7 linked regions of the Homo sapiens genome follow. The protein of the gene in region 1 purifies or fractionates together with the protein of each later gene. This does not show direct contact. Each region holds a gene or a part of one and is shown in the gene's direction. Other genes may lie near its edges.

Region 1 (3,500 bases):
CAATAAAGTAATTTACTGAAGTGCATTTTGTTCATTAATTATCTCTTTCCATGCTTTTCAATGTATGTAATTTGAAGTAAAGTGAACAAATTACTTGAAAGATCTTTTTTCCTCCAAAATATGATGAGATGTAGTCAAGAGAATGATCTTCTTGATTGTTAAAAATCAAAGTTTTAATAAACGCTATGTTAAACTTTAGAAACTTATCCTATACATTTGTAGCAATAACAATTTTTATGAAAGAATAGCCATTGGAATAATTTGAAATGAAGGACTGGGAATTAGAATTTGAATTCCTTTAATGACTATTTTGATAAAAGCCTATTTAGACATTTAGTTCATGCTGTGTACACTTCCTCTTGAAATAAGACCTGGAATTACTACTTAAAAAACACTATTATGATTTGTTCCTAGCCAATTTTATTCTATATTAGCAGAACAAATGTACTTTGAGTACCATTACCTCATGTGGCTATTGTGCTATGCCTTTTACTATTTATAAGGATTCAGCATGGACTGAATTCTGTTTATAAGAGTGCATCCCCTGATCCCCACTTCCCCCCCAAAAAATGCCCAAAATACCAAGGCCCAGTCTCTATCAGTGTATTTACATTAGAATTTTGGGGGATGGGACCTCATAGGGTTTCTTTGTTTGTTTGTTTTAAAGGGCTCCAGCTGATTATAAAGCCAGGTTTAGTAACAGTTGTATTAAATCAGAAAGCCTTTATGTTTGTTCATCTTGACATTTACTTTAGCAGCCTTTTATTTTATCTGGATTATTATATTCTTTTTCATATGAGGCAAAAATAATAAATTTTAAACTTTGTACTGTTTCACAGTGAAATTACACTTCCATTGTAATCAGAATAAATCTTTTTTTTTTCTTCTCCTCCTAAGGTCCAAGAAACTGGAGACATTGTCATTTCAAATGCATATGTGGATCTTGCACCAACATCTGGTACTTCAGCTAAGACACCCTCTGAGGTAGGTTATAAAAATTAGTATCCAAGCCACTTCCTCATTTAGGAATTTCAGTTAAGGTGACTTTAAGAGTGGTTAGGCTACGTTAGAAAATTAACAACCATGAAACTATTCTTAATTCTTGAAGTGAAAAACATTAATTCAAAACAGCTTGGAATAGAAGGAATACTCTGGCAATTTATGAACTTTAAAAAACTCGTTTTGCAGGATACTAGGATATCTTTCAAGAGAACATAATTTTCTAGTTTTAGAATAAATAAATCAGTTGTTTAATCAGAATCTTAAGCAAACAGCGTTTTGGAGAAAAATAGATTAAAAAGTTGAATATCCTGTACCTTTTTCTTGATTTAAAGGTTTATATAAAGTTTTGTATGCAAATATATAAACCAGCAGCGTGTATAATTTATTAAAACATTGTATTATTTATTAGCATGCTGAGACTTTTGATAAAAATGTTTATATTCTATCTCTGAAATATTAACTTTGTAATGTTGAGGTTTCGATACCCATGATCTTTAATTGTCTGTCATAAACCATATAACTGACTGAAAATTAAAATCCCTTAAGAATAGTCTAAGAAAAAAAAAAACTTAGAGCGGGCTCGGTGCCTCACGCCTGTAATCCCAGCCCTTTGGGAGGCTGAAGTGGTTAGGTCACTTGAGGTCAGGAGTTCAAGACCAGCCTGGCCAACATGGTGAGACTCCATCTCTACTAAAAATACAAAAATTAGCCAGCCTTGGTGGCAGGCTCCTGTAATCCCAGCTACTCAAGAAGCTGAAGCAGGAGAATCACGGGAACCCGGGAGGTGGAGGTTGCAGTGAGCCAAGATTGCACTACTGCATTCTAGCCTGGGCGACAAGTCTGTCTCAAAAAAAAAAAAAAAAAACAAAAAACAAAAAAAACCCAAAACTTAAGTTTTAGAGCTGTAAAGAAATTCAGACTTCATGTAATTTAGTATTATTTTATAAATAAAAAAAATGAGACCATAGAAGTTGATTAATTTGATCAGGATCTTTCTAAAGTTAGCTAAAACATAGGTTGTCCAGTTCCTATTTTTCTTTTAAAATATTATTTCTGAATTCTAATAAAAGTAAAATCCTGTTATTAAGAGGACTGAGGTTCTGAGTGATGTATACAAATAAGAAAGTATGAAAGACACATTGTATGAAGAAAACTGACTTATGTACAGAGTTTTAAAAAATCTTTTTTTTGCACATGTTTTATAATCACTTTTCTCCATGAGTTATTTTTACAGAACTTTTAAAGTTTATTTTGTTGTCGTTGTTAGGGCGGGAAGCTTCAGAGTACCTTTGTATTTGAGGAAATAGGACGCCGCCTAAAGGATATTGGGCCTGAGGTGGTGAAGAAAGTAAATGCTGTATTTGAGTGGCATATAACCAAAGGCGGAAATATTGGGGCTAAGTGGAGTAAGTTATAGCCCTGATTTTATAATATTCTAAGGTAATTCTTAGTAAATAAAGTATCTTTTTAACAATTAAAGACCTTTGAAGGTAGGTAAATCTTACCTTTTTAGGTAAGTTTTTTTTCTTTTCCCGTGGGAATGAATAGGTTTGGGAATGTCCAAAGGGGGGTGTGTGTGTGTGTGTGTGTGTGTGTGTTTGTGTGTGTGTGTAAGAGATGTAGGGAATCAATTGAAATGAAAATAACCTGTTTTAAGATTTCATTGTAATCCTTGAAAGTAGTTTAAACAGTCATCTTGGCTATATGCATCTTTATCTAATCTTCAGCTTCTTAAACATAAGGCAAATTCATCAAGTCAAAATGAAGTATTTTTAAGTCATGATATTTGACAGTTACAAAATTATTTTATTCATACCAAAACAATAATTTGGATTATCTTAATTATCAATATAAAATCACTATTTTCTAGATATATACAGATTATGGTCAAAGGTGTTTGTTTATCTAATCTAGGGAAATTATCTATTAGAGTGCCATGCACCCAATATAAAACATCTTGCCGCAGAAAGAAAGCAGTCATATTTCTTTTCACTGATGTGGAGGTCCAAAGAGACCCTGGTACCATTTTGTGAAGAAAGAGAAATTAGAGGATAAAAAGAATAAAGAAAAAATATTCTGTCAGATCTTTTGCATCTGCTGTGTAACTCACATCCTTAATCATGGCACACACTTTAATTATGGAATATTCTAACCTCACCTTTATTTTCCTAGAGATTCTTCAATTAGGTTGAAAAGATGAAAATGGATAGGAGGTAGAGCAGTAAGTCCCTGAATTCCCTTTCAGCAGAGTCTGTTGCTTGTCACAGTTATCTTACTGTATTATGGTCATTTATAATTGTATGTTTTCTCTCATTTGACTTTGGGCTTAATCCTGAGAAATGGCTGCAGTTTGTCTATTTCTAGCTTCTAGTATAGTCAATAACACATAATAACTAGCCTGATTCTGTATATGTTGGAATGAGTGCTAAAAGCCATGTAGAAAGCATAGTTTTAGAAAATAGTATGGCTGCCTTTTAAAAAAAAGGTTCTGAAATTGA
Region 2 (3,500 bases), on another chromosome or scaffold:
ACCACAACGAGTTTAGTTTTTTTTTGACAGCCCACATCAAATTGCTGACTCATAGAGCTCCTTTTTTCCCACATGCTCATTTCCCACACCTTATAAGTCTTTACAAAATATTATTAAAGAGAAAGGCTGTATCTTATTTAATTTCAATTTGCATTTCTTTGATTGCAGTTGAAGCAATCAATTATGTTTTATTGGACCCAGCTTTTATTCGTTTGAGAATTGCTTATTTATATTATTTGCTCATTTAAAAAATTGGGAGTGTTGATATATTTCTTATTGGTTCTAAAGTGTTTAAAGAATTAAGGATATTAATTTTTAATCATATGATGATACAAATATCTATGCATTTTCATTTGCTTTTCAGTTGTTGCAGTTTTTTAAATATAGAGAAGTTCATTTTTTTTTTTCTTGAGATGAAGTCTTGCTCTGTTGCCCAGGCTGGAGTGCAGTGGTGTGATCTAGGCTCACTGCAATCTCCACCTCTTGGGTTCAAGTGATTCTCCTGCCTCAGCCTCCCAAGTAGCTGGGACCGTAGGTGTGCATCACCACACCCAGCTAATTTTTGTATATTTTTAGTAGAGACTGGCTTTCATCATGTTGGCCAGGCTGGTCTCAAACTCCTGGCCTCAAGTGATCCACCCACCTCAGCCTCTTAAAGTGCTGGGATTACAGGCATGAGCCACTGCGCCCAGCCGAGAAGTTTATTTTTAATATGGTCAAATCTGCCGTTCTTTATGATTTCTTCTTTTGATGTCATGCAATGTCAGACTCTTAGGTGCTAAATTATACCAGTCCCATGATGATGAACAGGTATTTACCAGAAAACTTCAAATCTGACTCAGCATCCCATTGTGGACATGTACAGGTTTTGGCATATAATGGGTGAAAACACATATATGCTACACACACACATGCACACACACACACAGACACACATACACACAGCATATGGATATATATGTGTGTGTGTGTATATATATCTCCATTGAAGTGAAATAGCTAGCTAAGTGGTCTAAAGAAATCGATACAGATTCCAGAATGACTCAGTGTTATACAAGAACCAAAATGAAAATGACATCTGAGGGGAAGGGAAAAAACATAAAATTGAGAATCAGGAGACATGGATTCTACATTAACTGGTCAGATGTACTAGGCCAATCACTTAACATTAATTGTTCAGATGTGGTAGGCCAATCACTTAACTGGGCCTCCACTTTTTTTTATCAATATGGTGACAGTGTTGGTAGATGATCCTAAATTTCTCTGTCATTTGGACATTCCATAATCACACTTCCAGGTTTGCTCTTGGGTGAGCATCAAGTGGGTTGGGGCCAGAAAAGGAAAAATTTAGGAATGGTCAAGGAGAGGTGCTGCCAGGTTACCCGAGTGAGAAACTGGTAGCTGCAGTAGTGGTGAAGAGGAGAGAAAAACCTCCTCAAATTCCATCATCCTGACCTAACTCAGCACTATCAGGCCTGGAAGGATGTTTAAGCTTTGTAAGTGGTCAGATTTCTCTTGTTTCATAAAGTATCAGCCTCTTCATTGTGCATAATGACCCTGAATCCCAAATGACACATCCTCCTCAGAGTCAGACCCCGGAGGCTGCACTTGATTTAGAAAAGCACAACGTGAAGGTTAGTTACATATGTATACATGTGCCATGTTGTTGTGCTGCACCCATTAACTCGTCATTTAACATTAGGTATATCTCCTAATGCTATCCCAACATGGCACGTGTATACATAGGTAACTAACCTTCACGTTGTGCACATGTACCCTAAAACTTAAAGTATAATAAAGAAAATAAAAAAAAAAAAAGAAAAGCACAAACTCATATTGGACAGTTGGCTCCAGAGGCTTTGTCTACTGAAGGCATGCAATGCCAGCTTATCGCTACTGATGCATCCCAATTTCAAAGTCAAAAGCCCTGAGTGATGATGGCAGTTAATAATCTCAGCTATTCCTGAGGTTGAATATTAAATGTTAGGTTTAAAAGGGATTCTGGCAATCATCTAGTGCAACTTTTCATTTCTAGCTCTGAGAACATGTCTTTCTTTTCTTATTTCCAGGTATTTTTAAAATTTTTTATTAAATAGATTTGTCTATGTATTTCACTAAAAGTATATTCTAAATTTTAATACATAGCAGAGTCATATGTTACTCATTCATTTAATAATTTTCCCAAGTTATTTTAAAAGTTAAGCCCACAGAAAAATGAGGAAACTAGTACCATTATTCATATAGCCTTTACCTAGATTAATCAATTGATAATGGATGGGCACATTTGCTTTGTCTCTCCCTATCTCTGAATTTCTGTATAAATAAACACACATATCATATTAGGTTGAGATAGTTGAGAGTAATTTGCAGACATCACGCTACCTCACTCCAAAATACTTCAACATACATCTTCCAAGAAAAAGGACATTTTCCTATATAATCACAATGCCATTATCACATCTAAGAAATTTATTACTAATAAAATGACCTTATCTAATACACCTTTTACATTCAAATGATGCCAGATCACTCAATAATATTCTGCATAGCGGCTTTGAAAAGAATCCATGATTCAATCGAGGACAATTCATTGCATGAATATGCTGTTTTTCCAGTGATTAAGTGAGAGAAGTAACTAATGTGGAATAGTTTCCTTCTATAGAAGCAACTTGAAGGGTGGTGTTACTATAATCACTGTATACCCCTCCATGGAGTTAACTAACAGGACCTGGAGTTAACAACTTTGTTTTTTAATTGAAGGATAACTTACAATAAGGTACATGAAGGGTGTCATAATTTTTTACATACCTATACCTCATGTAATCAACACACAGATAAAGACAGAGACATTTCTAGTATGCTATAAAGTTCCATTGTTCCCTTCCTAGTCTATACTCCCATCGTCGGTAACCATTATTGTAATATTTTCTCATAAGCTATGCCTGTTGTTGAACGTCATATGAATGTAATCATACTCTAAGCACATGTTTTGCCTGTTTGCTTTTCACTCAACATCTATGAGATTTATTTATAATGTTCCAGGTACTAGCGGTTCATTTTTTAAAAATTGCTAGGTTGTTTTCCATAGTATACATTTACTGTGTTAATAATGGATTTATATATTATATTATACAGTTTACTTATTCCTTCTCCTGTTGATGGGCATTTGGGTTAGTCTTTGTTTCTGGCTATGATGAATAAAGGTGTCATGAACATTCTTGATGAAACCTTTATGACAATATGCATTCATTTCTCTCAGATCTTTGCCCAGGAGTGAAATTGCTGGTGCAAAGGACATATATGTGTTTAGCTTTAGCATAAAACCACCAGATATTTTTTCTGCACTGGATGTGATATTCTGCACTCCTGCCAGCTATGTTTGGTACTTCCAGTTATTCTACCTCCTTGTCAAGTCTTATTCTTCTCTGACTTTGAAAATGCTAGGTACTCTAGCAGGTGTGTAGAGGTATCTCATTGTGATTTGAATCTGCATTTTCCTG
Region 3 (2,224 bases), on another chromosome or scaffold:
CACTTTTGGAGAAAGTTTTCCCTTTTAAGTTTTCTCTCTGATAATTTGATGTGTTTACTGCCTATCAGTTTAAATTGGTTGACTCTCTAGTCTCATTTAAGAGATTGTATATGGAAAAAAAAAGTTATAAAAAAAGGCATAATCTAAACCGGTAAGCCTAAAAAGTTTTTTTAAACCTATACTTAGGTTCTGTAAATTTTCATTTGTGATAGCTTTATTTTAATTTCTTTGTTTTATAACCAGGATTCAGCAGAAGGACTCTCCATGTTTACCGGAGAAGAGGAAATCTTTGCATTTCAGCGCACAATTTCCCGACTCACGGAAATGCAGACTGAACAGTACTGGAATGAAGGAGACAGAACCAAGAAGTAACTGCCACTTTTGCATAAATAAAACTCTAGACAAATGGTTAACGCAGGCAGAACTCCTTATTGTGGGACTTGAAGGAATCATTTTCTCATCATTAATTATGCACTTTGTCCTCTGGACCATTTTAATCTAAAATTGCTCTCAAGGATCTAGTGGATTAGTAAGTTAAACACTTAACATTTTTTAGGTCTGCTTTTTCTTATTTGGCCTTATTTCTGCACCATGAAATTAAAATCATCTCATTCCTGAAGATGAATGTAGGACCAGACATTTTAGCTTCACATTAAACCACCTGAATGAACCTTGAATGCACAAGTAAATGCAAGACGTCTGGATACCTTCAAGCTTTGGCTGCATGGTGGTGGCATGTTAGAAATACATCTTTTATAATGGGGGAAGAATGCCCTATGTTTCAATTCAAAACAAAGACAGTTTTCCAATCTGATATAAACTAAAAGGGATAATATTTTAGAATATGGGCTTATATGTGGTTTTTTTTTTTGGTTATGAATTACAGTAAATCTCCCAGGCCTTCAGATTTCTACATAATGGAAGAATATGTTTTTAACCCTGAGATCAAGTTTAGTAGGCAGGACTTGATCTCAAGTGGTCACAAAGTTTTCTAAAAAAAAATAGAAAATTATGATGGGATCAAATAAGGAGCAAGTGTCAAATTCCAGCCAACAGGCAGATCTGCAGGCAGAGCTACAAACTCTGCAGCCAGGAATGGGGACCAGTGAGAGAGTGTGGGCGGGGGGGTGGGTGTCAGAGTCGTAGGCACTCCAACAGCAGAGGAGACTCCCGCTCACATGAGGCCAGCCGTACCCCAGTGGACAGCAGGCTCCTTCTCACTGTTGTAGACACTTGCTCTCCTTGCAGCATGCTGCCCCCGCCCTTGCCGCCAACTCTGCCGTGAGATGGACCTAATAGGAAATAGGAAAGAAAGCCTGACAAGCCTGCTTCACAGGAAATCTGATTTGTCCTTCACTGAGCTCATCTTTTGCTTCTTTGAGTAAAACCTGGCTTTACTAACTATTGTCACAAAGTGGATCTTCGGCTGTGGATGAGTGTGAAAAACAGAAAAAATATAAAATCCACAAAATCTTGTGAAAATTAAGCATTTGGGGGAAGGTAAGGCATAGGTGAGTCAGTCCAATGAATACAATGGTCAACATAAGTAAGCTCTTTGAACCTATTTATTTTCTATTTATTATTATTTTTATTTTTTATATCTTGGCCACTCTAGCCATCTCCTGGCAGGGGTAGTGTGGCACAGCATGGCCCTATTTAATTTCTTAGTCAATAATCCATCACATAGTCTCTTTTAGATATTAACCTAATTAAGGCAAGCAGGTAGATGGATGAGTACCCAAGCCGAGAGAAGAGTTTAAATCAAGCCTTCTGTAAATAAAATGTGGTTTAAAGATATTTTTATTGAAGTGAAACACAGTAATTTCAAAGAGGTTACGTAATAGGGAGAAAGGATGGGAAATAACCACTTTGTGCTGGATTGAATGCTATATATTTACATTAGCTCAGTTAAAAAAAATAGTCTTAGAAAGTGAATATTATAACCCCTGTTTAAAAATAAGAAAACTGAGTCTTGGGAAAGTTAAGTAGCTTGACCTGAGATTCACAGTTTACAACTACAAAACTCATATACTATATTTTATAACACACTGTCTCTTACTCTTACTATTTAAAAAAAAGAGATTGTTTTAAAAATTGATTCATTTAACTCAGTGAATGAAGTTGAAGATAAATTCACAACAGAACCATTGATTTGAACTCAGTGAATATAAAATGTTTAACTTTATTCTTTAGATCTTAGCTTTTTACTTTTCACATTCCTTTG
Region 4 (4,028 bases), on another chromosome or scaffold:
ACCTAATGTTTGTATATTCAGTACAGACAGAGTTTCACCATGTTGGCCAGGCTGGTCTCAAACTTCTGACCTCAAGTGATCCGCCTGCCTCGGCCTCCGAAAGTGCTGGGATTACAGGCATGAGCCACCGCGCCCAGCCATACATTTAAAGGCCATTTTCTTTTCTATAAACTGTCCATTGATATCCTTTGCTTATTCAGATAAGCTGGGCATCTTTGTCTTAGGAACTATTTGTGCAATAAGTAAATCAACCCCTTGTCTATAAAATGAGTTGCAAATATATGGTATTTTTCCCGGTTTGTTGTCTTATGATTTTGTTAATTTTTTTTTTTTAAGATAAACATAAGCCTGGTATTTCCAGGCACCTGGTATTTCCAGGCAGTCTCCCATACAAGCCCTAACCAGGCTTAGTTTCCAAGATCAGATGCATTCAGGATGGTACGGTTAATTTTTCAATGGAGAATTAGTTGTACTCTTATGGCTTCTGGCTTTCGCACACATAGCGTATCACTTATTTATTGCTGCATAAAGAATTACTCCAAAATTGAACGGCTTAGAGCAACAGCAGTCAGTGCATTATCATCTCTTATGGTTCCGGGGTTGACTGGGCTCAGCCAGTGATTCTCCTAAAGGCTCTTTCTTGCAGTTTTAGCTGTAGTCAGGTGGGAGTTGGCCTGGAGTCACCCGAAGGCTTCCTCACTCATACCTCTGGTCATTGACGGTGGCTGTGAGCCGGGCCCCTGGCTGTGCTGTTGGCCTGAACACCTACACGTGACCTCTCTGTGTGTCCTGGACTTCCTCACAGCCTGGAACCTGGGTTTCTACCCTGGGCCAACCCAAGAGACAGAAAAAGTGGGGGCTTTCAGTCTCTTAAGGCCTGAGCCTGTGGAAACAGGACCCTGAGCGTGTAGAAAAAGCAGGGCTCCCATGAGGCCTTGGACGGGATACTGCCCCCTCTCCCCCGGGGCCCTGATTCCCCAGTGGCACGAGGCGCACCCCCCCACACACACACAAGGACACTGTGTAGGGTCACTGTTACTGTCACTCCCCGAGCACGCACAGTCACCGCTCAGCCGCAACCCGGCGCTCCCTCTCGCGAAGCCACACCCCCTGCGCACGCCGCGCGCGACGTCTCTCCCGCCCACTCCAGCCTGGCCCCGCCCCGGCCCAGCTACATTCCCGGGCCAGCTTCTGTACTGCCAGGTCCGGGTCGGCGGCTGCACTGCGGATGAGACCGGTGCGACTCATGAAGGTGTTCGTCACCCGCAGGATACCCGCCGAGGGTAGGGTCGCGCTCGCCCGGGCGGCAGAGTAAGAGCCTCGCGCGCCGTGGAGGAGGGAGCAGGGCGGTCCCAGGGACCGGAGAGCCGGGCGGGGCGTTTGGGCCTTGTGGCCGGCTGGGGCAGGCTTGGAGTTTTGGGGAGTCTCGGAGAAAGTTCTCTGGGGCCCAGTTCTCCTCTTAAGACGACGCTGGGACCTGCAGTTCCGGCTTTGGAGAGGGGAGATTGCCCCTGAGGCAAGGTCCAGGCTAATTCTCCACGCTCCCACAGGACATGTGGGGTCAGGGACATGGCGGTCACTGACCAGGCCCTTGGACGTTTGGCAGGGGGCTTTGATGACTCTTCTTCTTTATATTTACTTATCTTTTTTTTTTTTTTTTTGAGACAGTCTCACTCTGCTGCACAGGCTGGAGTGCAGTGGCTCGATCGATCGTGGCTTACTGCAGCCTCGACTTCTTGGGCCCAATCAGTTCTCCCACCTGAGCCTCCCGAGTAGCTGGGACTACAGGCGCAAACAATCACTACCGGCTAATTTTCTGATTTTTTTTTTGTAGAGATGGGGGTCTCACTCTGTTGCTCAGGCTGGTCTCAAATTCCTGGGCTCAAGCAATCCTCTTGCCTCAGCCTCCCAAAGTGTTGGGATTACAGGTGTTAGTCACCATGACTGGCCTGAGGACCCTTTAATTTTTAAGACAGGGTCTCACTCTCATCCAGGCTGGAGTGCAGTGGCACCATTATACCTCACTGCAGCCTCAACCTCCTGGACTCAAGAGATACTTCCACCTCAGCCTCCCAAGTAGCTGGGACTACTACAGGCATGCACTACCATGCCTGGCTAATTTTTTATTTTTTTCAAAGACGAGGGTCTCACTGTGTTGCCCAGGCTGGTCCTGAACTCCTGTACGAAGGGATCCTCCCACCTCAGCCTCCCAAAGTGCTGGGATTACAGGCATGAACCACTGCACCTGGCCCACCCTTGCTAAATGGAACCCTTTTTGTGGGCCAACCTTGCCAGGTGCTTCATATACATAAACTTTTAATCCTGGTAGCACTGTGAAGTCAGTATTATAATTCCCATTGCACAGATTAAAAACTGGAGGCTGGACTTAGGGTTAAGTTTCTTCCCAAAGCCATGCAGCTCCCAGGTGGAGGAGCTGGGGCTTGTACTCAGAAGTGTCTGACTGCTGTCTGATCACTGCATTTGATCAGGTTTGTGTTTCCAATGTTAGATAGGAAGAGGATGCAATCCAGCCTCAGCAGCCAGTTCTAGGGGCATATGAGATTTTCAAATTTTGTTCACTGCAACAAAACCTTTGCCAAGGACCCACTTTGTACTGAGCAGGAGAAGGTGGAAGGCAGCAACCGCGCCCATGGTAACAGTAGCTCACGCTGTACCCTGCTCATGGGGAGGTGGATGAAAGGTGGTCAGTGCCCTGGGCTCAGTCAGGAGGTGCAAGTAGCTATCCTGTGTCCTGCCACATAGAGGCTCCACACGTGCTGACTGTACTGAATTCCATGGCAAGGGCCAGGAGGCACCGTGCATCACTGGGACAAATATCTGGTTGCTGTGAGCTGCCGTGGAAGCGTTGGGTGGCCTTGACCTTATCTTTCCTGGCCCAGTCCAACTATGAGAGTTTTCTATTTCATGGACTCCACGGACAGGAAGAGATGCAACAGGCCATTGAATCCAGGCCCCCCACCTGAGGCACACCCTGCCCCCCACGGGCCTTCCCTGCAGTTGGCCGCCTGCTTGGCCGCCCAGCCCCTGTGAATGTGGGAAAGCTCTTCTCTGTGCTGACCTGAGAGCTGTCCCCATGCCTTCCCCCTTGCAGCTTAGGCTCTGCTGGGGGGCCCCTCAGCCCTTCACCTGTCACCTGCTGTCTCGGGACAGTTCTGAGACCACCCCTGCCTGACCCTGCCTCCCCTCAGCCAGCCCCGGGCAGCCTGAGGCCAGGGCCATCAGAGGCCAGGATTCCCAGCTGGGAGGGGCGGGGACAGGTGTGCGGCTCCTGCTTCTCCTGAGGGCCTCCCTTTCCCCGCAGCTGTGAGGTGGAGCAGTGGGACTCGGATGAGCCCATCCCTGCCAAGGAGCTAGAGCGAGGTGTGGCGGGGGCCCACGGCCTGCTCTGCCTCCTCTCCGACCACGTGGACAAGAGGATCCTGGATGCTGCAGGTGCACACTGGGTGGGCAGGGGACTTGAGGGTGGCTTGGCCCTGTGGGCCCCTCAGCCTGTGCTGCTGGCTCCTGGCTGCTCTGCAGTGCTGTCTGGGTTCTGAGGGCGTTTCCTGCGATACCAGGCCCGAGCGGGCAGATAGCTTGCTCTGGCACAGGCACTGCCCCTCCCTCCTGCTGTGAACCCCTTGGCGGGGGACCCTAGGAGGGCAAAGACCGCGGTGTGGAGACTGTGGGTGTGGGGAAGTGCATCCAAGGCCCTGGGTTCTCCAGCCCTGCCACAACCTTGCTCTGTGACCTCCAGCAAGACCCTGCCCCTTCTGGGCGTGTGCGTAGTATGAGGGAGGACCTAGCTCAGTGCCAAGCCCCAGCAGGATGTCTTTCCTCAACCGCAGCCACGGGTCTCAGCCCATGGAAGAATAAACCTCCCCCTGTGAGGCTGTTGTGACAGTTTTGAGAAAAGGTTCAGACTCAGAGGCTGCCAGATGGGAAGGGACCCTTGTGAGTCAGTGCTGAGCCGCCCCACATCCTGGCCTTGGCCTGGAAGCTTTGTGGTGTCCTGCTTGCAGGAGAGG
Region 5 (3,500 bases), on another chromosome or scaffold:
GCCTTTTGGCTACAATCAAGTATGATATTCGTGCCAGGTACAGTGGCTCATGTCTGTAATCCCAGCACTTTGGGAGGCTGAGGCGGGTGGATCACAAGGTCAGGAGATCGAGACCATCCTGGTTAACACGGTGAAACCCCGTCTCTACTAAAAATAAAAAAAATTATCTGGGCATGGTGGCGGGAGCCTGTAGTCCCAGCTACTCGGGAGGCTGAGGCAGGAGAATGGCATGAACCCGGGAGGCGGAGCTTGCAGTGAGCCGAGATCATGCCACTGCACTCCAGCCTGGGCAACAGAGCAAGACTCTGTCTCAAAAAAAAAAAAGTGTAATATTCGCATACTTGGGAAAGAACTGCACCAAGCTGGCTTTTGGATGGCCTTGCTCTGCTCAAGTTTGCAGTAACCCACATTTCTTTCTTTATAGCTCAAGGACATGGTGCCAAAGGAGACAATGTCTATGAATTTCACCTGGAGTTCTTAGACCTTGTGAAACCAGAGGTATGTTCTTTCCTTTCTCACTTCCCTTCCCATTTTAGGAAATGAATACCAGTAGTTTAGTGAAATGGGGAGCAGGGTTTGTGGAGAGAAGAAGATAAAAACCAAAGGGGAATAATAGAGTTCTTTTATTTGGAACAGAGCCCAGGTTTTAGCTGCAGAGGAATGGGAAAGTCAGAGACCCCAAGTTGAGTCAGGGCCCTGCCATTTATTAGCAGTGTGATCTTGAACAAGTCTCTTAACTTCTTCGAGTTCTGGTGTTCTCATGTGTTAAATGAAGGTCTGGACTAAGTGATCCTTCCAGCTCTGATATTCTCTGGTTTTAGTGATGGCAGAGGAATATGGCACCCATTGAGAACAGAGTTACATAGAGTGGTTGAAGCCCCCACCAGGGGTTACTTTCATGTGACTTTGCCACAGTTGCAGGTGAGAAAAATAGAAATCAGAAAGGGTGAAGGCAGCTGGCCTTCAGAAAGAATGCTGCAGATATCATCAAAACTTCCCTTCCCTTAGAGCCTGAGGAAGCTTCTCTCATAAGCAGGGAGAGAATCCAATAGATGGGGTATTTTGGCTTCTGGAATTACACTTAGCTCTGGTGGCTTGAGCTTCTTGATTTCCGTGCGCAGGTGCTCAGTTGTTTTGAGAAAGCATGAATAATAACCAGTGGTACAGTGGGCAGAGAACCTGTCATGGAGCTTCCTTTGGAGAAAAGGGACAGGACATGTAGACAAACAATGAGCTGGAATGGCCTATAAGAATTTGAGTTTAGTTGGGAAGACTCCCCAAATTGACCCCTGTGAAAAAATCTGTAACTGATCCAATACAGTTCTGATCTTGATGCAGGTGTTTCTAAAACCGGGGTCTGCTGAGCCAGGACAGTCATTTTCATGGGAGGAAAATTTATAAGCTGAGGGTAATTGGATGCAGTACCCTTGAGAGGGTGATTGGACATAGTACCTTGCATGATGTGGCTGTGGCAGGAGGTTCATGCTAGTTCCCTCCAGCCTAACCAGGAACTATTTGCCTTTCTTATCCTGATATCCTCCTGTATCATTCACTGGGGGAATCAGAGAAGGACATTATGTCCTTACCAGTTCTCCATGCCAGCCGTTGGTCTAGATCAACCTTTTTGGCACCAGGGACCAATTTTGTGGAAGGCACTTTTTCCACAGATGGTGGAATGGGGATGGTTTCAGGGTGATTCAAATGCATTACATTTGTTGTGCACTTTATTTCTGTTATTATTACATTGTAATATATAATGAATACAACTCACCATAATGTAGAATCAGTGAGAGCCCTGAGCTTGTTTTCTTGCAACTAGACAGTCCCATCTGGGGGTGATGGGAGACAGTGACAGATCATCAGGCATTATAGTCTCATAAAGAGTGAGCAACCTAGATTCCTTGCATGCACAATTCACAATAGAGTTCACGCTCCTATGTGAATCTTGTGCCAATGCTGATCTGACAGGAGGCAGGGCTTAGGCAGTAATGCAAGTGATGGAGAGCGAGTCTAAATATAGGTGAAGTTTCACTCACTTGCCCACCACTCAGCTCCTCCTGTGTGGCCCGATTCCCAACAGGCCATGGACCAGTATCAGTCCATGGCCCAGGAGTTGGAGACCCCTGGTCTAGATGTTCCCTTTGCATCAGGACTTGCAGGACCAGAGAAAGAAGGAGAATAAATATATCCTGCAGCTTCTATGTACGGCGCCCCTGGCATGGTGCTGCTTCAGGGAACAGAAGAGGGCATTCTCACATTTTCACTTTCTCTCCTAGCCTGTTTACAAACTGACCCAGAGGCAGGTAAACATTACAGTACAGAAGAAAGTGAGTCAGTGGTGGGAGAGACTCACAAAGCAGGAAAAGCGACCACTGTTTTTGGCTCCTGACTTTGATCGTTGGCTGGATGAATCTGATGCGGAAATGGAGCTCAGAGCTAAGGTTAGTAAGGATCCTAGGATCTAGCCATTGAGGACAAATCATGGGGAACCCACGTTATTCAGGCCACTTCAGATACCTCTCGGTCTGAAAGAATAGCTACAAAGTTACAAATTCATTTAAAGACCTGGTGATGTGATTTTCAAGAAGTATTGGCTATGTATTTTATAGACTTTCCTTCGGTTGAAATCTGTCTGATGTTTCTCTTACAACTAGACTAAGGTGATAGATGTTGAGGAGAAGACCACTGAAGTAAAGTGCAATTCTTATCACATCATATCAAGAGTACATACGGCCGGGCACGGTGGCTCACGCCTGTAATCCCAGCACTTTGGGAGGCCAAGGTGCGTGGATCACGAGGTCAGGAGATAGAGACCATCCTGGCTAGCACAGTGAAACCCTGTCTCTACTAAAAATACAAAAAATTAGCCGGGCGTGGTGGTGCATGCCTGTAGTCGGAGCTGCTCAGGAGGCTGAGGCAGGAGAATGGCGTGAACTCGGGAGGCGGGGCTTGCCGTGAGCCGAGATCACGCCACTGCACTCCAGCCTGGGCAACAGAGCGAGAGTCTCAAAAAAAAAAAAAAAAAGTACATACTGTCAACGTGACACATCACTGTTGATATTAACCATGGGTTAGCTGGCTTGAGGTGACGCTTATCAGGTTTCTCTACCATAAGGTTATTTTCCTCTTGGCTCTCCTTGGAAGGAAGTCACTATGTGTAGCCTACATTTAAGGAGCAGGGAGTTATGCTTCCTGTCCTTTAGATGGAGGGAGTATCTACATAATTTATTTGGAATTCTTCTGCATAGGAGAATAATTATGCATGTCTATTGTCTCCCATTTATTTATTCAATCATTTATATCATGTGAGTACATGGGTATTTATTTTATACTTTGAGTTATAATCTAATATTATTTATTTTGTTGCTCAAATTCTTCCAGCTTTGGCACTAACTGGCCTTTGGTTATGTCCTCATCCTGCCCATCTTTCATTTGGCTTTTGTATCTTTTTGAGAAAGCGCCATCATTATGGGACTGTTTTTTTTTTTTTTTTTGAGCAC
Region 6 (3,500 bases), about 27 Mb from region 1:
TCATGTGCCTTCTTGCTTATTTCCAAAGTAATTCTAGCCATGCCTAGAAGTTCATTCTAATTCCTGTAGAACACATTATTAACATTATTCTCTGAAATACTTGAATAAATCAAGAGTAAGTGATTTGGCTAAATCCATGGCAAAGTAAAAATCAATGACAATGCCAGCATCTGAACTTATGATTCCCTATGATTGCATCATTTTTTATTACCATCTTTGAACATATTTTCAAAATCAGCCTTCAATTTTGATGTAACTTATCTAAGTGAGAGTTGATCAAAATTTTAAAAGATTTGAGAGACTTAAGACCCAGTAAAGTTTTAATATAGCCAATGGCAGCAATATCCTAGATTTCAGTAATCCTTTGTAGATTTTTCAAAGCATTTTTCATCTGTTATCTTGTGTGTTCCTCAGGACAGTCCTATCTGAGACGCAACATCCTTATTTTACCAATAAGGAAAGAAAGGCTTAGAGAGATTATGACTACCTTGGGTCTAACCATTAGTAAGGGAGCAAACTAAGTTTAGAAAGCACATTATCTCTGACCTCTGGTCTAGTGTCTTCCTTTGATGACTACTATGTGGGACATGCCCTGGGATGGAATTAGGGTTGATTGTGTCTTCTCACCTTCATTTTGGCAAACACTATTTTGGGCGATTACTCCAAATCTCTCCTAACGTACTAGACTTCTGTGTGGGTATAGTTAGCACACCACTGGCAATCTCTTCTCTGCAAAAAAAAATTAATAATGCAAGAACCCATTTTAGGGACTTGAATCAGATCTCTCACATAGATTAGTAGGTTTAAGGCAAGTCTTTTTTTTCCTTCAAATTTTTGTATCGTTTATTTGCTTAGGGTGTTGGACCTCAGGAATATACTTTACTCAAATTGAAGGTGCTTGAGCCATACCCATCTAAATTAAGGTAGGTTTGCCAGAGTAATTGCTTTATCATTTCTGAACCATCAGATAGTTGTTACAGAGTTGACATGTTTTTACATCAATATTTGTTTTTTTTTCTCAGTGGCCTGAAAGGTAAAAATATTTTCTTGGTGGCTGCTACTCTCAGACCTGAGACCATGTTTGGGCAGACAAATTGTTGGGTTCGTCCTGATATGAAGTACATTGGATTTGAGACGGTGAATGGTGATATATTCATCTGTACCCAAAAAGCAGCCAGGAATATGTCATACCAGGGCTTTACCAAAGACAATGGCGTGGTGCCTGTTGTTAAGGAATTAATGGGGGAGGTAAGTTGGATAGCAGATTTTTTATTTTAATGCGTAAATTTCAAGGAAAATTTCAACAATGAATATTGAGAAAAGAGCATTACAACCTTAAAAAATGAGGTGTACATGCAGTAAACTGTGTAAGTCTTGTGTGTTTTGGTGCATTTTCATATGTATATACACTTACGTAAACACCACCTAAATCAAGATATAGAACAGTTTTAGCACTCCAGAAGGCTCTCTCATGTCCATATCATTAGTACTCACCTCTCTCCTCCAAAGGTAACCACTGCTCTGACTTCACCAAAGATTAGTTGTTGTTCTTGAACTTTACATAATGGAATTGTGTAGTCTGACTGTTTTGTGTCTAGCTTCTTTTGCTTAACATTATGTTTGTGAGATTCATACATGTTGTAGGAATAGTTCTTTTTTTATTGTTGTGTAATATTCATTGTATGACTGTATCATTAAGATAGCATATTTTATTTTTAGGTTTCAACTCGGTAAATATCTGGTTGAAAAATATAGGCAGTCCTCCCCAAGAGATTTAATAGCTGCATTAGTCATTATATTATTTTAAAAATACTATTACCTGAATTCCTGGTAATACTAAATTTGGAATTGTAGCTGCCTTTTTTTTTTTTCATGTGAAGAAAGTCTTGGTTGATATTAATTAAATATGGATGGTTACACAGCTCATCTACTTTATTTTATTTTTATTTTTTTTTTTGTAGACAGTTTTGCCCTTGTTGCCCAGGCTGGTGTTCAGTGGCGCGATCTCAGCTCACTGCACCTCTGCCTCCTGAGTTCAAACGATTCTCCTGCCTCAGCCTCCTGAGTAGCTGGGATTACAGGTGCGGGCCACCACGCCCAGCTAATTTTTTGTATTTTTAGTAGAGACAGGGTTTCATCATGTTGGCCAGGCTGGTCTTGAACTCCTGACCTCGGGTGATCCACCCACCTCGGCCTCCCAAAGTGCAGGGATTACAGGCGTAAGCCACTGTACCCAGCCTTATCTACTGTATTATCAATATTTCTGAGTGTGTTTAATTCCATTTAGTGAATGCTGATCTTTGGTATCTTAAATAATTTTTTAAAAAGAAAAATATGAGTAGAGTACCATCTCAATTCTTTTAAATTGAACTATTTTATTCCTTATTTAATACTTTGATTGCAGTATATTTACAAGTCCCAAAATTCAAAAAACGCAAAAAGATACAAAAGTTCCCCATTCTAGAGGTAGTTAGTAATATCTGTGTCTTGTGTATCCTGGTAATATTTCATGTATACACAAGCGAATACACACATACTCTTTGTCCCTCTGTTTTTACACAAATGGCAATATACTTTATATGCATTGTACCACATCTTGCTTTTTAATTTGTATCTTGGCAATCATTTTGTCAGTACATAAACAGCTTCTTTATTCTTATTTTTTATAGCTACATAGTATTTCATTGTTTGGTTGTACCACAATTTACTTAACCATTCTCTATTAATGGATATTTGAATTGTTTCCTGCCTTTTTCTTTTAAAAGCAGCACTGCCACATCTCTTTAGTTCCTAATGTTGGAATTTTGTCTGAGAAGTTCTTGGGAACAGTATTAGGGACATACATGTTTTCCTATTCTTAATGCAACTTTTCTCCCTGTTAATTTGAGCAAATTCTGGCGTGAGGGACATGGATGTTATAAATTGCAAAATAGTTTCAACATTTAAAATGGTTATAATATTTAGCTGTCATCCATATGACTGCAAATTCTATAAAGGCAGGTTATAAGTACATATATGAATAAAGAGGGGTGGGTGGGAATTATGTGGAAAGGAAAAGTGTGTTCCTTAGCTAGAGCAAGAAGCTGCAAATTCTTTGTTGCCATCTGAGAATTTGGGTCTAAAATTGCTTAATCTTTTGGATTTTTTCAAGTGAAATTAGAACTATCCTTTTACTTTGTCTTCATAACTACTATTTTAAATAGATGTATAGTACCCATTCTTGTTCTTGTAACATATTTTGTTAAATCATTTTTTCTATCATTGAAAGCTTTAGTTGTTTCCAGGCTTTCCTAGTATAATTAACTCAGCATTGGGTAGACTTGTTTAAGAAAAAATAATTAGTTGTTGTTGAGTCTGAGTTACATGAACATTTTGTGGCTTTTGCTGTGGATTCCTATATTTTCTTCAAGGAGTACAATGTCACAAACAATGTATTAGTGTACTCATGTCATAATATTGACAGATTTAGTTATTATAATTATTAAAAATTATTTTTCCGG
Region 7 (3,110 bases), on another chromosome or scaffold:
ACCGAGCAGGCCAAACAAAATATGTCTGTGGGTCTGATTCATTCATTCATTCATTCATTCATTCATTCATTCATTCATTCATTCAACAAGCCTTTGTTGCGCGCCTACTTGGCACAAGGCACTGTTTCAGGTACTGGGGAGACTGCATGAACAAAACCTCAAAGTCCTGCCCTTATGGAGCTGACACTAGGTCGAGAGAAAGATAACAAGTGAAATAAGTGAACTATCTAGTGTGTTAGATTTTGAGAGTGTTAAGGAGAAAACGTAAAGCCAGGAAAGGGTGTGGGCAGCAGGTGTTCATGTCTAGAAGCTCAGCGTCTGTCACCACGTGGGGTGGTATCCAGCCCTACCAGGCCCTGGGGGCTCCAGGGTGGAGATGGTCCTCCTCCCTTCTCCAGCCTTTCTGCCCCCTGGCTCACATCCTCTTTTGCTCTCTGACTCCTCAACAGGCATAATCACCAGCAACACCCGGGACAATAATACGGGGGCCACCTACCCCCACCTGAACTTCAGCATTCCCATCACGGTGCTCCAGCCGGCCCTGCAGCAGTACAGCCAGACCCAAGACCTAGGTGGCCTCCGTGAGCTGGACCGCGCTGCTGAGCCAGTCAGGGTGGTGTGGCGGTTGCAGCGGCCCCTGGCAGAGGCCCCGCGGAGCAAGCTCTGAGGCTGTGTTACCACCTTTGGAAAGAAGAGTGACCTTTTTCTGCTGTAGGAAGTGATGTTGAGGTGACGGTGGCCTCAGGATTCAGGGCCCAGCCCCTGCAGGGGCCCAGGCTGCCTCTCATCTCCACCCACTGACTGCAGACTGGGCTTTGGGCTCTGGGGCAAACTTCTCTTCAGCCCCATGGATCCTTAACCTGGCAGCCCGTTTTGGGGTGCTTTCTTGAGCCCCCAGTTCTCTGTCCCCTAGCACTAGACTCAGCTGTATTGTTTTTCCTTCTGGGGAGCCCACTCCAACTGCACAGAAGTTCTGGGCCTGACAGGTAGATTCCAGCTGGAAGGCAGGCCCGTGCCTGGTTTTGCGTCTGTTCCCCTGAGGGCCATCGTCATCCTGGAGCTTCAATGGGGCCTTGGCTCCTGTCTGCCTCTCAGTCAGAGTCAGGGCTGACAAAGGACTCAGCTTCCTTAGCATCTCAGCAGAAACCTTGCTCTGAAGACCAGAGACAGAAGGGACAGAAACAGGAGTGCCTCCTGCTGTGCCAGGCCCATGGGCAGTGCAGGCAGATCCCTGAAGGTCAGCACTCCTGGGTCTTCATATGCCAACAGGGGCGCTCTTGACACTGTGCCTTCATTTTCCAGCCCACAGCCTGGGTCTCAGGGATCTTGAGGGGTAGAACATGTCTGGTTGGGGCTTGGGAATAAACATGATCTATTGAAAAACCTCTGTATTTATATATCAAATTGTTTCTTTTTTTCAGGAGTTGAACTGGGAATAGGCAAGTACCAGGCAAAGAAACACACCCTTTCCTTTTTTTTTTTTTTTTTTCTTTAGAGCTGTGGTCTTGCTCTCTCACCCAGGCTGGAGTGCAGTGTTGCGATCACAGCTCACTGCAGCCTCAAACTCCTGGGCTCCAGGAGACCTCCTGCCTCAGCCTCCTGAATAGCTGGGACTACAGTCGCGCACCACCACGCCTGGCTAATTTTTTATTTTTGTAGAAATGGGGTATTGCTTTGTTGCCCGTGCTGGCTTCAGCCTTCTGGTTTCAAGCAGTCCTCCTGCCTCAGCTTCCCAAAGTGCTGGGATTACAGGTGTGAGCCACTGTGCCCAACCCAGAAATACACCCTTTCTGTGCTGTTTTCTCAGCAGGGTGTGAGCTCACGGGATACGGTCCTGCCAGACTGGCCCTCATAGCTGGTCATGTGCCAGTCAGAGCTGGGTGGGGCTTGCAGGTCCCGGAAGGTGGTGGTCTTGACCTGGCAGCAGATGCTTAAAGAATGCCTAAGGTGGGTGGCAGTTGGGGAGTTCAAGGGTGAATGAGGCCAGGGCAGCCCCCAGGAGCTGAGGCCAACTCTTTGAGTCAGGACTGTGCCGTGTGCCCAGGGCCTTGCATGTGTGGGCCCTCGAGTGATTTCTACTGGCAGGCTGAAAGCCCTGTGAGGGGCGGCTGTGGGCGGAGGCCACGCAGGAAGAGTGCTTAGGAGTAACTTGTTTCTAACACCTGTGTGCTGAGTGCCAATGCTGGGTGTGGTGTTATGATATATATTGGTTTTCATCCAGCATTCCTGACTCGTAACTCTCATAGTCCTTGTTCCAGTCTTTGTTAGAATACTGGGTATGTTAGGGCTTGGGACAGGCCTCTGACCTCTGGGTATCCTTTCACTAATGTTCGCCCACCTTTTTCACAGTGGGTCCTAAAGACCTTCCCATGAGAGGGTCTCAATCCTAGGGGAAGGAATGTTGATGTCATGAACCTTCCATAAAAACCCAAGAGGACAGGGTTCAGAGAGCTTCTGGATAGCTGAACACCTGGCACTTCCTGGAGTGTGGCGTGCCCAGGGAGGGCACGGAAGCTCTGCACTCCTTCCCCTTCCCTCATTCCTTGCTCTATGTGCATCTCTTCATCTGTATCCTTTGCGATATCCTTTATAATAAACCGGTAAACATAAGTAAGTGTGTCTCTGAGCTCTGTGATCCACTCTAGCAAATTAATTGAACCCAAAAAGGAGGTCGTGGGAACTCAACTTGAAGCCAGTTGGTCAGAAGTTCTGGAGGCCTAGACTTGTGCCTGGTGTGGTTGAGGGGGGCAGTCTTGGAGACTGAACCCTCAACCTGTGGGGTCTGACAATGTCTCTGGGTAGATAGTGTTGGAACTGAATTAGAGGACACCCGGCTGATGTCCACTGCTTTTGGTGGGGAAACCCCACACACATTTGGTCACTGAAGTCTTCTGTGTTGATGATTGTGATGGCATGAGAGTAGAGGGAAAACACGATTTGAGGAGAGTTTTTCCTAAAACACGGGGCAATCACAGAACACTCCTGGGATGGTTGTTCCTCCCTTTACAGATTAGGAATGGGTCCAGAGGTCATGGCTAGTTTAAGAGAAGTTCTACAGTAAGTTAATGGTAGCAGAATCCTAGATCTGAGGTCTGACTTTGCTGTGAGAG

What was found.
Region 2: the proteins of HSD17B4 (region 1) and PLEK purify together in Homo sapiens (co-immunoprecipitation; one study listed by IntAct). This does not show direct contact.
Region 3: the proteins of HSD17B4 (region 1) and AFG1L fractionate together in Homo sapiens (co-fractionation; one large-scale study listed by BioGRID). This does not show direct contact.
Region 4: the proteins of HSD17B4 (region 1) and GRHPR fractionate together in Homo sapiens (co-fractionation; one large-scale study listed by BioGRID). This does not show direct contact.
Region 5: the proteins of HSD17B4 (region 1) and HACD3 fractionate together in Homo sapiens (co-fractionation; one large-scale study listed by BioGRID). This does not show direct contact.
Region 6: the proteins of HSD17B4 (region 1) and LARS1 fractionate together in Homo sapiens (co-fractionation; one large-scale study listed by BioGRID). This does not show direct contact.
Region 7: the proteins of HSD17B4 (region 1) and TYSND1 purify together in Homo sapiens (co-immunoprecipitation; one study listed by IntAct). This does not show direct contact.

The regions. Positions count from the first base shown.
Region 1 is NC_000005.10:119,528,997-119,532,496, forward strand, and holds part of HSD17B4 (peroxisomal multifunctional enzyme type 2), read left to right. Parts: intron 1-897; coding exon 898-984; intron 985-2,269; coding exon 2,270-2,408; intron 2,409-3,500. UniProt on the Homo sapiens protein: Bifunctional enzyme acting on the peroxisomal fatty acid beta-oxidation pathway.
Region 2 is NC_000002.12:68,371,782-68,375,281, forward strand, and holds part of PLEK (pleckstrin), read left to right. Parts: intron 1-3,500. UniProt on the Homo sapiens protein: Major protein kinase C substrate of platelets.
Region 3 is NC_000006.12:108,522,054-108,524,277, forward strand, and holds part of AFG1L (AFG1-like ATPase), read left to right. Parts: intron 1-243; coding exon 244-372; 3' UTR 373-2,224. UniProt on the Homo sapiens protein: Putative mitochondrial ATPase. Plays a role in mitochondrial morphology and mitochondrial protein metabolism.
Region 4 is NC_000009.12:37,421,523-37,425,550, forward strand, and holds the start of GRHPR (glyoxylate reductase/hydroxypyruvate reductase), read left to right. Parts: upstream 1-1,228; coding exon 1,229-1,311; intron 1,312-3,322; coding exon 3,323-3,453; intron 3,454-4,028. UniProt on the Homo sapiens protein: Enzyme with hydroxy-pyruvate reductase, glyoxylate reductase and D-glycerate dehydrogenase enzymatic activities. Reduces hydroxypyruvate to D-glycerate, glyoxylate to glycolate, oxidizes D-glycerate to hydroxypyruvate.
Region 5 is NC_000015.10:65,554,463-65,557,962, forward strand, and holds part of HACD3 (very-long-chain (3R)-3-hydroxyacyl-CoA dehydratase 3), read left to right. Parts: intron 1-424; coding exon 425-498; intron 499-2,276; coding exon 2,277-2,441; intron 2,442-3,500. UniProt on the Homo sapiens protein: Catalyzes the third of the four reactions of the long-chain fatty acids elongation cycle. This endoplasmic reticulum-bound enzymatic process, allows the addition of two carbons to the chain of long- and very long-chain fatty acids/VLCFAs per cycle.
Region 6 is NC_000005.10:146,155,151-146,158,650, reverse strand, and holds part of LARS1 (leucine--tRNA ligase, cytoplasmic), read left to right. Parts: intron 1-855; coding exon 856-923; intron 924-1,022; coding exon 1,023-1,248; intron 1,249-3,500. UniProt on the Homo sapiens protein: Aminoacyl-tRNA synthetase that catalyzes the specific attachment of leucine to its cognate tRNA (tRNA(Leu)).
Region 7 is NC_000010.11:70,137,481-70,140,590, reverse strand, and holds the end of TYSND1 (peroxisomal leader peptide-processing protease), read left to right. Parts: intron 1-449; coding exon 450-667; 3' UTR 668-2,610; downstream 2,611-3,110. UniProt on the Homo sapiens protein: Peroxisomal protease that mediates both the removal of the leader peptide from proteins containing a PTS2 target sequence and processes several PTS1-containing proteins.